Homo sapiens: one gene and its partner. The protein of the gene in region 1 interacts with the protein of each later gene in a pairwise test. Each region holds a gene or a part of one and is shown in the gene's direction. Other genes may lie near its edges. The genes, in order: HEYL and SP8.

The links.
Region 2: the proteins of HEYL (region 1) and SP8 interact in a two-hybrid assay, tested with the Homo sapiens proteins (one large-scale study listed by BioGRID and IntAct).

The regions. Positions count from the first base shown.
Region 1 is NC_000001.11:39,622,774-39,626,433, reverse strand, and holds the end of HEYL (hairy/enhancer-of-split related with YRPW motif-like protein), read left to right. Parts: 3' UTR 1-2,999; downstream 3,000-3,660. UniProt on the Homo sapiens protein: Downstream effector of Notch signaling which may be required for cardiovascular development. Transcriptional repressor which binds preferentially to the canonical E box sequence 5'-CACGTG-3'.
Region 2 is NC_000007.14:20,783,921-20,788,412, reverse strand, and holds the start of SP8 (transcription factor Sp8), read left to right. Parts: upstream 1-1,526; 5' UTR 1,527-1,614; coding exon 1,615-1,635; intron 1,636-2,369; exon of another isoform or gene 2,370-2,465; intron 2,466-2,617; coding exon 2,618-4,123; 3' UTR 4,124-4,492. UniProt on the Homo sapiens protein: Transcription factor which plays a key role in limb development. Positively regulates FGF8 expression in the apical ectodermal ridge (AER) and contributes to limb outgrowth in embryos.

The DNA.
Region 1 (3,660 bases):
TTTTCTGCTTTGCTTCATGGACTGGCTCATATGTGAAGGCACGTTCTCCAGCCATCAGAGGCCCCCTCCTCCTCCAACCCATCTCTCCTTCTCACTGTTATCCCAGCTTATCCACCCAGCTCTCCTGGAGCTGTTCTGGTCTCAGAGGCTTGGTTCCATTTCTCACCTGAACAGATGAGTCCTGGGAGAGACCCTCAGAGATCCGCCCAGACCCCTCTCCTGCCCTCTGCACACCAGCAGCAGGCATGAACCTTGGGTCTGGGAAAAAGCTTTAACCTGCAGGGCACCAGGACCCAAGGCAGGCTGTTCCTTGGGGCGGTCAGACCCCAGTCAGGAGCAATGACTGACTGGCTGCAGCCTTCCCACGCCAAGAGGCTGGAACATAGTGTCTGCCTCGCTTCCTGGAGATAGTAACTGAGCAGGGGCTACAAAGAGGTCTCCTGGGAACCCTGTCTGCCCCTTCCCACCTGTCCTTGGGCCACACCATCACACTGAACCACAGGACAGACCCTTTCTCCACCACAGCCAAGGCCTGGAGACTGGGGGCCCAGCAGAGCCTGCTCCCACCCTCCTCCCAGCAGCAGACACCCACCCTCTCACTGACTAACAGGTCCCTGCACACAGCTGGCCTGGTAAACCCAGCTGGGAGGTTTCTAGGCAGCAGCAAAACTCTGTGACAGGGTGTCCTCACACCAGGCCTTGGACAGCTCTCCCAGACAGGAGCCAGGGTTGAGCAATGGAGAGCCCAGCCCCCACGTCTTACAGTCGCCATCCTCCAGGCGTGTGGTCCCTCCCCATTGGGTGCACAGTGCAGAGGGGCCGTGGCCCCATGTGATGGTGCGCAGAGAGGAACCTCTTGGGATTCAGCACCAGACGTCTGTGCTGCCTGGTTTGCATCCGGCTCACAGAGCCCAGACTGCTGGAACAGCCAAGGACTGTCAGGCTGGACAAAAATAACTGCAAGGAGGGGCAAGAGAAAGGATGATTCGAGGCACCTTGGCCCTTCAAGGTCATGCAGTGGGTCGAGCGCCTGAGATCCTGTTCACCAGGACTCCACAGAGCTGGCTCTGCTCAGAAGCCATTTCATTCCCCGGCTCCACCCTAGGCCACTTTTTCTAACAGAGGAAACAAATGGTCCAGCAGTCGTTCCCAGCAGAACAGCGGAGCCTGGACTGACACCCAGTGGGACCAGTGTTGCCACACCAGTTGATAAAATGCAGAAACCCTTCTGTACTCGTTGGTAAATATCTACTCCCCCAAGTGACTCCAGGTGCCCCCCACCGCCTGGCACTTCCCCCAGGACTCCTACGATCTGGTTACTGCCTGGCCGATCCAAGGCTGTGGAGTCCCAGAGCCAGCAGTTCACTGGTGCTCATTCCACACTGGTTAGATACTTCAGTTGTCACCCCTGGGAAGATTCTCCCACCTCCTCCCTTTGATGGAACCACCCTCCCCAGAGGCTGCATTGAGGAGACTCCACAGACTGAAAAGTGAGTTTGCAGAAACCTTGGGGAAAAGGGCCCTTTCAAAGAAGTGGATAAGAGGGAGGAGATCATTGAGTGACCCAGAAAGCTCTTTTGAAAAGACAGACTCCTCAAGGAGAGATAAAGAGGAAAGCACCTCTTTCATTTTTTAGTGTGAGCTAATTCCATCAGACTGCTGTCCTCCTGGACCCATCTGAGATGTGCAGTAGCAAGGAGAGGGGGGATCATTTTAGAGAGTGGGTCATTGGCAGGGAGTGCTCCGGAGGGAGGCAGAGGGGAGACTGTGGTAGAAGGAAGACAGAACTCACACATGCTCCCAGGATTGGGGACAGGGACAGAGGAGGTAACAGAAGGCAAAGGCCAGTTTCCCCGTTATCATGAAGGGGCCCACTCAGGACAGGAACAAGGACAACTCCTCCTCCTCCTCCTCCTCTCCTGCTGCTCCTGGGATACCAGGTCAGTGATGTAGTCTTGCAGTTTGGCAACTTCCTAGCCTGAGAATCCCTAGTGGGGCTGTGGGAAACACATTTCCACGTTGCAAGCATGCAACTCCAAAGAATCTGTGATGCCACTGAAATGAGATGGGAATGATCCAGCTCTTTCAGCATCTTGGTTGAACTTGCTTTCATTGTCCCTGGGATATTGTGGAAGGAAAGGTGACTGTGTGATCTGATTCTGTGGTCAAGGACTTGCATCTTGTGTTTCTATCCCCAAGCCTTCCTGGTGTCTCCAACTCCTACCCCATTGCATGGGTTGTTGCGGACATCCAATAAAGATTTTTTTAGTGCTTCTGGAAACTTCCAGTAGATTCTACTTCTAAACTATCTCTGGAGTCCATCCACTTCTGTCTGCACCCACAGCCATCCTGGCCAGGCCACATCACCTCCCCCAGATCACTGCCCTGGCCTCAGAAAGGTCTTCCCTCTTGCTTTGTCAATCAGTTCTCAGTAGCAGCAGAGAGAAATTGAAAGCTGCAGGTCATATCGTATCATCTTTAGTTTGAAAACCTCACTCTCTTACCCTATTGTTCTAAAGGTCTTCTTTTGGTCCCAACCTCATTTCCAGCCTCATTTCTTGCCAGTCCCAGACTTGCTCCCTGAGCTTCTGCCACCTGCCCTTCCTTCATTTCCTCGACATTCCAGCCTTGTTCCCACCTCCAGCACTTTGCATATGCTGTTCCCTTTGCCAAGAATGCTCTTCCCCTACCCTGTGCATGGCTGAGTTCTGCAGACCCTCAGGCCTTGGCTTCAACGTTGCCTCGTCCAAGAGGCCTTCCTCGACTACTTTACTTGTGGAGTTCCTCTATCACAAGGCCTCTGTTCTTTCCCTTCATGGAGAATTTGCCACTGCATATCCATTTGTGTAATTTACTTGTTGGTTGACTGTGCCTCCCACTCGAGTGTAAGCTCATGAGGCCAGGTGCCATGCCTGGTTCAGTCTCCACTCTGTACCCAGCATTGAGCACAGGGCCTGGTCCATAGTTGGCGTTCAATAAATACTTGTTGAAGAAGTGAACTGAGAAGGTGAGATATCTTCTGGACTCATGCCGTGGATGGTCCAGGCCCCTTTAGGTGTGAACCCCCTGCTGGCCAACTTTGCGGGGAGGCTGCAGAGCAGAGGGAGAGCCAGGGCCAAGGGACTGGAAGTTCTGGCAAGTGGCCAGGAGGCCCTGGCCAAAGGCAAGTGCGAGTGTCCACTCCGAGTGCACACTGACAGCTGGGAGCAGGCAGGCTGTCCTGCCAGCAGGCATTGCTCTCCACCCTTGGCTTGGCTCTGTGATGGATTTGGCTCGCAACAAATCCAACGAACACAGAGGTCTGCTCTGTGCCAGCCAGGCACAGTGGAGCCAGAGCTGGGAAGGACACAGTTGCTTTGAGTGGGGGGCACACCCTCCATCAGGATGATAGTTTGGTGAGATGAGAGTAGGGAGGTTTGTTAGGAAGGCTGAAGGGAGCAGAGTTGGGGTATGTGGCCCTGCCCGGGGTGTCAAGCGGGTAGGGGGCTCTGGGAGGAAGCTTTCCAGGAGGAGAAGGAAGGGAACCATTCTATGTGCAAAGACCTGGAGACCTCATCAAGGAGAGCTGTAGACGTTGGCTCTGAGTTGAGCACGGGCCCTCAGTGACAGGGTGAGAGGTGGGCTAGCCTGGGCACTGAAGCCAGACTTCTTTATTAATGA
Region 2 (4,492 bases), on another chromosome or scaffold:
AGGGCTACAAAGACTGGACTTTTTGCTACACTGGTGTTGTGCTTTCTGCGGTTTAAGTTCCCTTGTGGTGGCAGTGAAATTGTAATGGCATTTCTGAAGGCAACTAATAACACAAATGGCAAGCAAATGACTAAACCCCACCGAATTTGAACTAAGTGTATCTATTAACATGCACACACACTCATAGACAGATCTCTGGCCCAATCGCCATTAGACACTGACGCCTGGATAAATGTCCAAGATTTGTCAAAAGCTCCTCTCTATTCTTAGATAAATAGAACCCATATATTTCGATCAAAGTCCTGATTCTTTTCTCAGAAAGAGGCAGTGAGGTTTTCTGTGAAAATTTCTAAATTCCGTAAAACGCTCTTCAATTTCTTACCCAAAGAAAAAACGACCCTCGCTTACTCTCTTCTCTATCTAATCCTTTTGTATTGAAATTTACTCAACACCACGGGACACACACACCTCCTCCCCTAGAGTGAGACGTGCACTTCTAAAGCAGAATTCCACCTCAGGGAAAAAAAAAAAAAAAAAAAAAAAAAAAGCCACGGCATCAAAGAAACAACTCATGGGCGCGCAGGCGCGCATCCACGTCCCAACGCATCCCTAAAAATAACCCTTAGCCTCTCAACCTTTCTACTATTTCGTTGGAGAGCCGGGAAAGAAAAGGTGGGTTTAAAGATCTTCTTCAAAAATGTAGTGACGCTGTTTACCAAGTTAAGAAAAAAAAATCACTCAAGATTTTAGGTACAAGGAGCCAAAGGAAGTTGGCGACAGGGGCAGCGTTTGTGAATATTTATTCACTCAGCCTCCATCAACTTAGTCGGTTTCTCTCTTCAGCTCGACAGTCTCTCTCTTACAAACACACACTTTATTGCATTGTTCCCATTCCCCACTACCAGCTTTGGTGCGCGCACACAACACAAGCGCCCACACACACCCTTCCCTCTTCTCTGTCGCACAAATACACATGTTCACAGCCCTCCTTCTCCCCCAACACCAAACACACTCACCCCCCACCCAGTTGAGTCCCTCTTCCCTCCCTAGGTTTGTCAGTTACACTACCGTACACTCACACCCTTCCCAACACTTAACTGCTCTGTCCCTCTACCCCGCTTTGTCGCACACGCAGTTATCTTATCACACAACCCTCCCTTTTCTGCACTCTCTCCACTCCCCGCCTTTACCACACTGTCACTGTTACGGTGTCACACCCCCATCCCCCCTCCCTCCAGTCTCCGCACTGTCCTCTCCTACGCCTGGTCACACTCGCACACAGTTACATTGTTACACACACACTCATACACGCGAGCGCGCGCTTTGCGCTTTGTAACACACGCAGCCGCCCCCGCCCCCTCCGCTCCCACTCCCCCTTCCACCACGGCGGCAGGCGGCGGCGCCGATGACCTCACGGCGCGCGCGCCGCGCGGCCCGGCGAGGCCGCAGATTGGCTGGCCGCGCCTCCGCGGCACTTCAAAGCCGGAGAGGGAGCTACAATTGTGGTGGAATGGGCGGAACTGATCATTGTATTGCACACCTCTAAAAAAAACACTGCCTCTGATTTATCAATATAAAAAAGATCCTCTGAGAGGAGGAGGGCACTTTTGTGTGATGGCAACTTCACTTCTAGGGGTGAGTCTCAGGATTTTCTCTTGCTGGTTTAATTAGTTTCCTTTTATTGCCGATTGGAGGGGGTTAAAGTCGCCCCGGCCAGGCCACGGGCTATCAGTCTCTCTATTGAGAGCTTTTTTTTTTTTTCTTTAAATACAAGTGAGTTTGGAGAAAAGAAAAAGGGGGAGAAGGGGGCAGAGTCACTTTTTTTCAGCGCAGGAAAAGGTTCGAAGGGCATTTAGACAAGCCACCGCGCAGCGCCTCGCTGCTCCCTGCCCGGGAGACCTGCGTCCAGCCCATTTTACAGGCACCGATTTCGGGGGTAAAGAGAGCAAGTTTTTCCTTCTGGGCAAAGTGCAGATTCTTCCCCTAACCCTTAAAAAAAAATTCTGCAGCCCGCCTTGTCTCGCAGGTACGTTGAACTCGTCTCGTTTTTACTACTGTAGATATGCTTTTAAAAAAAGAAAGAAAGAAAAGCAGGAAGAAAGAGTGAGCCCTACAGTTTGATTTCTTTTGGCCTGGGAGAAACAACCCAGGATGGGTTTCTGGGGACCCGAACAGGTTTTTCAAAGCTCTCCGGATTACAGGGAAGCGCTCTTAAAAGCAATCCAATGGTTTTCCCCCAGGCTTCTCGGCAAAGAAAACTTCCTTCCTCTCCAATCTGGACTTTTTGCTTGTTTGTTACGAAGTGTCTGGGGCTTTGTGTGCAAGAGAGTGTTGTTTTAGGTGAGAATACTTGTCAAACTCTTCTTTAGCGTGGTGCTTGCTCCCGAATCAGACGCCGGCAGCCAAACTTGTCCCCTCCTGTAGAGTAGGAAGCGGCCGGGCGCCGGGGCTGTTGGGGGTGCCAGGTGAGTTGGTGGCGGCGCGCCGCAGCGAGAGATGGGGTGCAGTGGGGCGCTTTGGAGGCTACCGAAGGACTGATGCACATTTCTTCCTTTCCTCCCCCACCGGCCCTTTGCCCACCTCCCCTCCCCCACTCCTTCTCCTCTCCTCCTCGCAGGAAGAACCGAGGTTGGGATCGACTCCTCTGGCCATGCTTGCCGCTACCTGTAATAAGATAGGCAGCCCCAGCCCGTCTCCCTCCTCCCTCTCGGACAGCTCTTCTTCCTTCGGCAAAGGCTTCCACCCCTGGAAACGCTCCTCGTCCTCTTCTTCCGCCAGCTGCAACGTAGTGGGTTCCAGTCTCTCAAGCTTCGGCGTGTCCGGGGCCTCCAGGAACGGCGGCTCGTCCTCGGCGGCTGCGGCGGCCGCGGCAGCAGCCGCGGCTGCCGCGGCCCTGGTGTCCGACTCGTTCAGCTGCGGCGGCTCGCCTGGCTCCAGCGCCTTCTCCCTCACCTCCAGCAGCGCCGCAGCCGCCGCCGCCGCCGCCGCAGCCGCCGCCTCCAGCTCGCCCTTCGCCAACGACTACTCTGTTTTCCAGGCCCCCGGAGTTTCCGGGGGCAGCGGCGGCGGCGGCGGGGGCGGCGGCGGCGGCTCCTCCGCGCACTCGCAGGACGGCTCCCACCAGCCGGTGTTCATCTCCAAGGTGCACACCTCTGTGGACGGGCTGCAGGGCATCTACCCGCGGGTGGGCATGGCGCACCCGTACGAGTCGTGGTTTAAGCCCTCGCACCCGGGCCTGGGTGCTGCGGGCGAGGTGGGCTCGGCCGGCGCCTCCAGCTGGTGGGACGTGGGGGCCGGCTGGATCGACGTGCAGAACCCGAACAGCGCGGCTGCGCTGCCCGGCTCGCTGCACCCTGCCGCCGGGGGGCTCCAAACCTCGCTGCACTCGCCGCTCGGAGGCTACAACTCGGATTACTCGGGCCTGAGTCACTCGGCCTTCAGCAGCGGCGCCTCCTCGCACCTGCTCAGCCCCGCCGGGCAGCACCTCATGGACGGCTTCAAGCCAGTGCTACCCGGCTCCTACCCGGACTCGGCCCCGTCGCCGCTGGCCGGCGCGGGGGGCTCCATGTTGAGCGCTGGGCCTTCGGCGCCGCTGGGGGGCTCCCCGCGCTCCTCAGCTCGCCGCTACTCCGGCCGCGCCACCTGCGACTGCCCCAACTGCCAGGAGGCAGAGCGGCTGGGCCCTGCCGGGGCGAGCTTGCGGCGCAAGGGCCTGCACAGCTGCCACATCCCGGGCTGCGGCAAGGTGTACGGCAAGACTTCGCACCTCAAGGCGCACCTGCGCTGGCACACGGGCGAGCGGCCCTTCGTGTGCAACTGGCTTTTCTGCGGCAAGCGCTTCACGCGCTCCGACGAGCTGCAGCGGCACCTGCGGACCCACACCGGCGAGAAGCGCTTCGCCTGTCCAGTTTGCAACAAGCGCTTCATGCGCAGCGACCACCTCAGCAAGCACGTGAAGACGCACAGTGGCGGCGGCGGCGGCGGCGGCTCGGCGGGCTCGGGCAGCGGCGGCAAGAAGGGCAGCGACACCGACAGCGAGCACAGCGCCGCGGGCAGCCCGCCCTGCCACTCCCCAGAGCTGCTGCAGCCCCCCGAGCCCGGGCACCGCAACGGCCTAGAGTGACGCCCACCCTGCGCCCGCCCCTCTCCCCGACCTCCTCCCACCAAGTCCTCTTGGGCCCTGTCTGTCCGGACTTCAACTCCAGCCTTTCCCTATTGCATCCGACTCGCTCTCTGTCTCTTTCTGTTTCTGCCCCTCTTCCTTCTTCCTTCTGTGACTTAACTTTGTAAAGGGGATATGGACAAGTAAGTAACACGCATCGCTGTCCCGGGCCCTGGCTTTCCCTTTCCACGGGTAACGCTGCCTGAACCCGTTGCAGCCGGAACCCGCGCCTCGTCGGGCCTTTATTTCTCGTTCTCTCTTCCTTGTCCTCCCCTCCTCCACCCCCCAGGTTGTGAAGGGCGTAACTTTTAGAGGGAACGGCCACTGGAG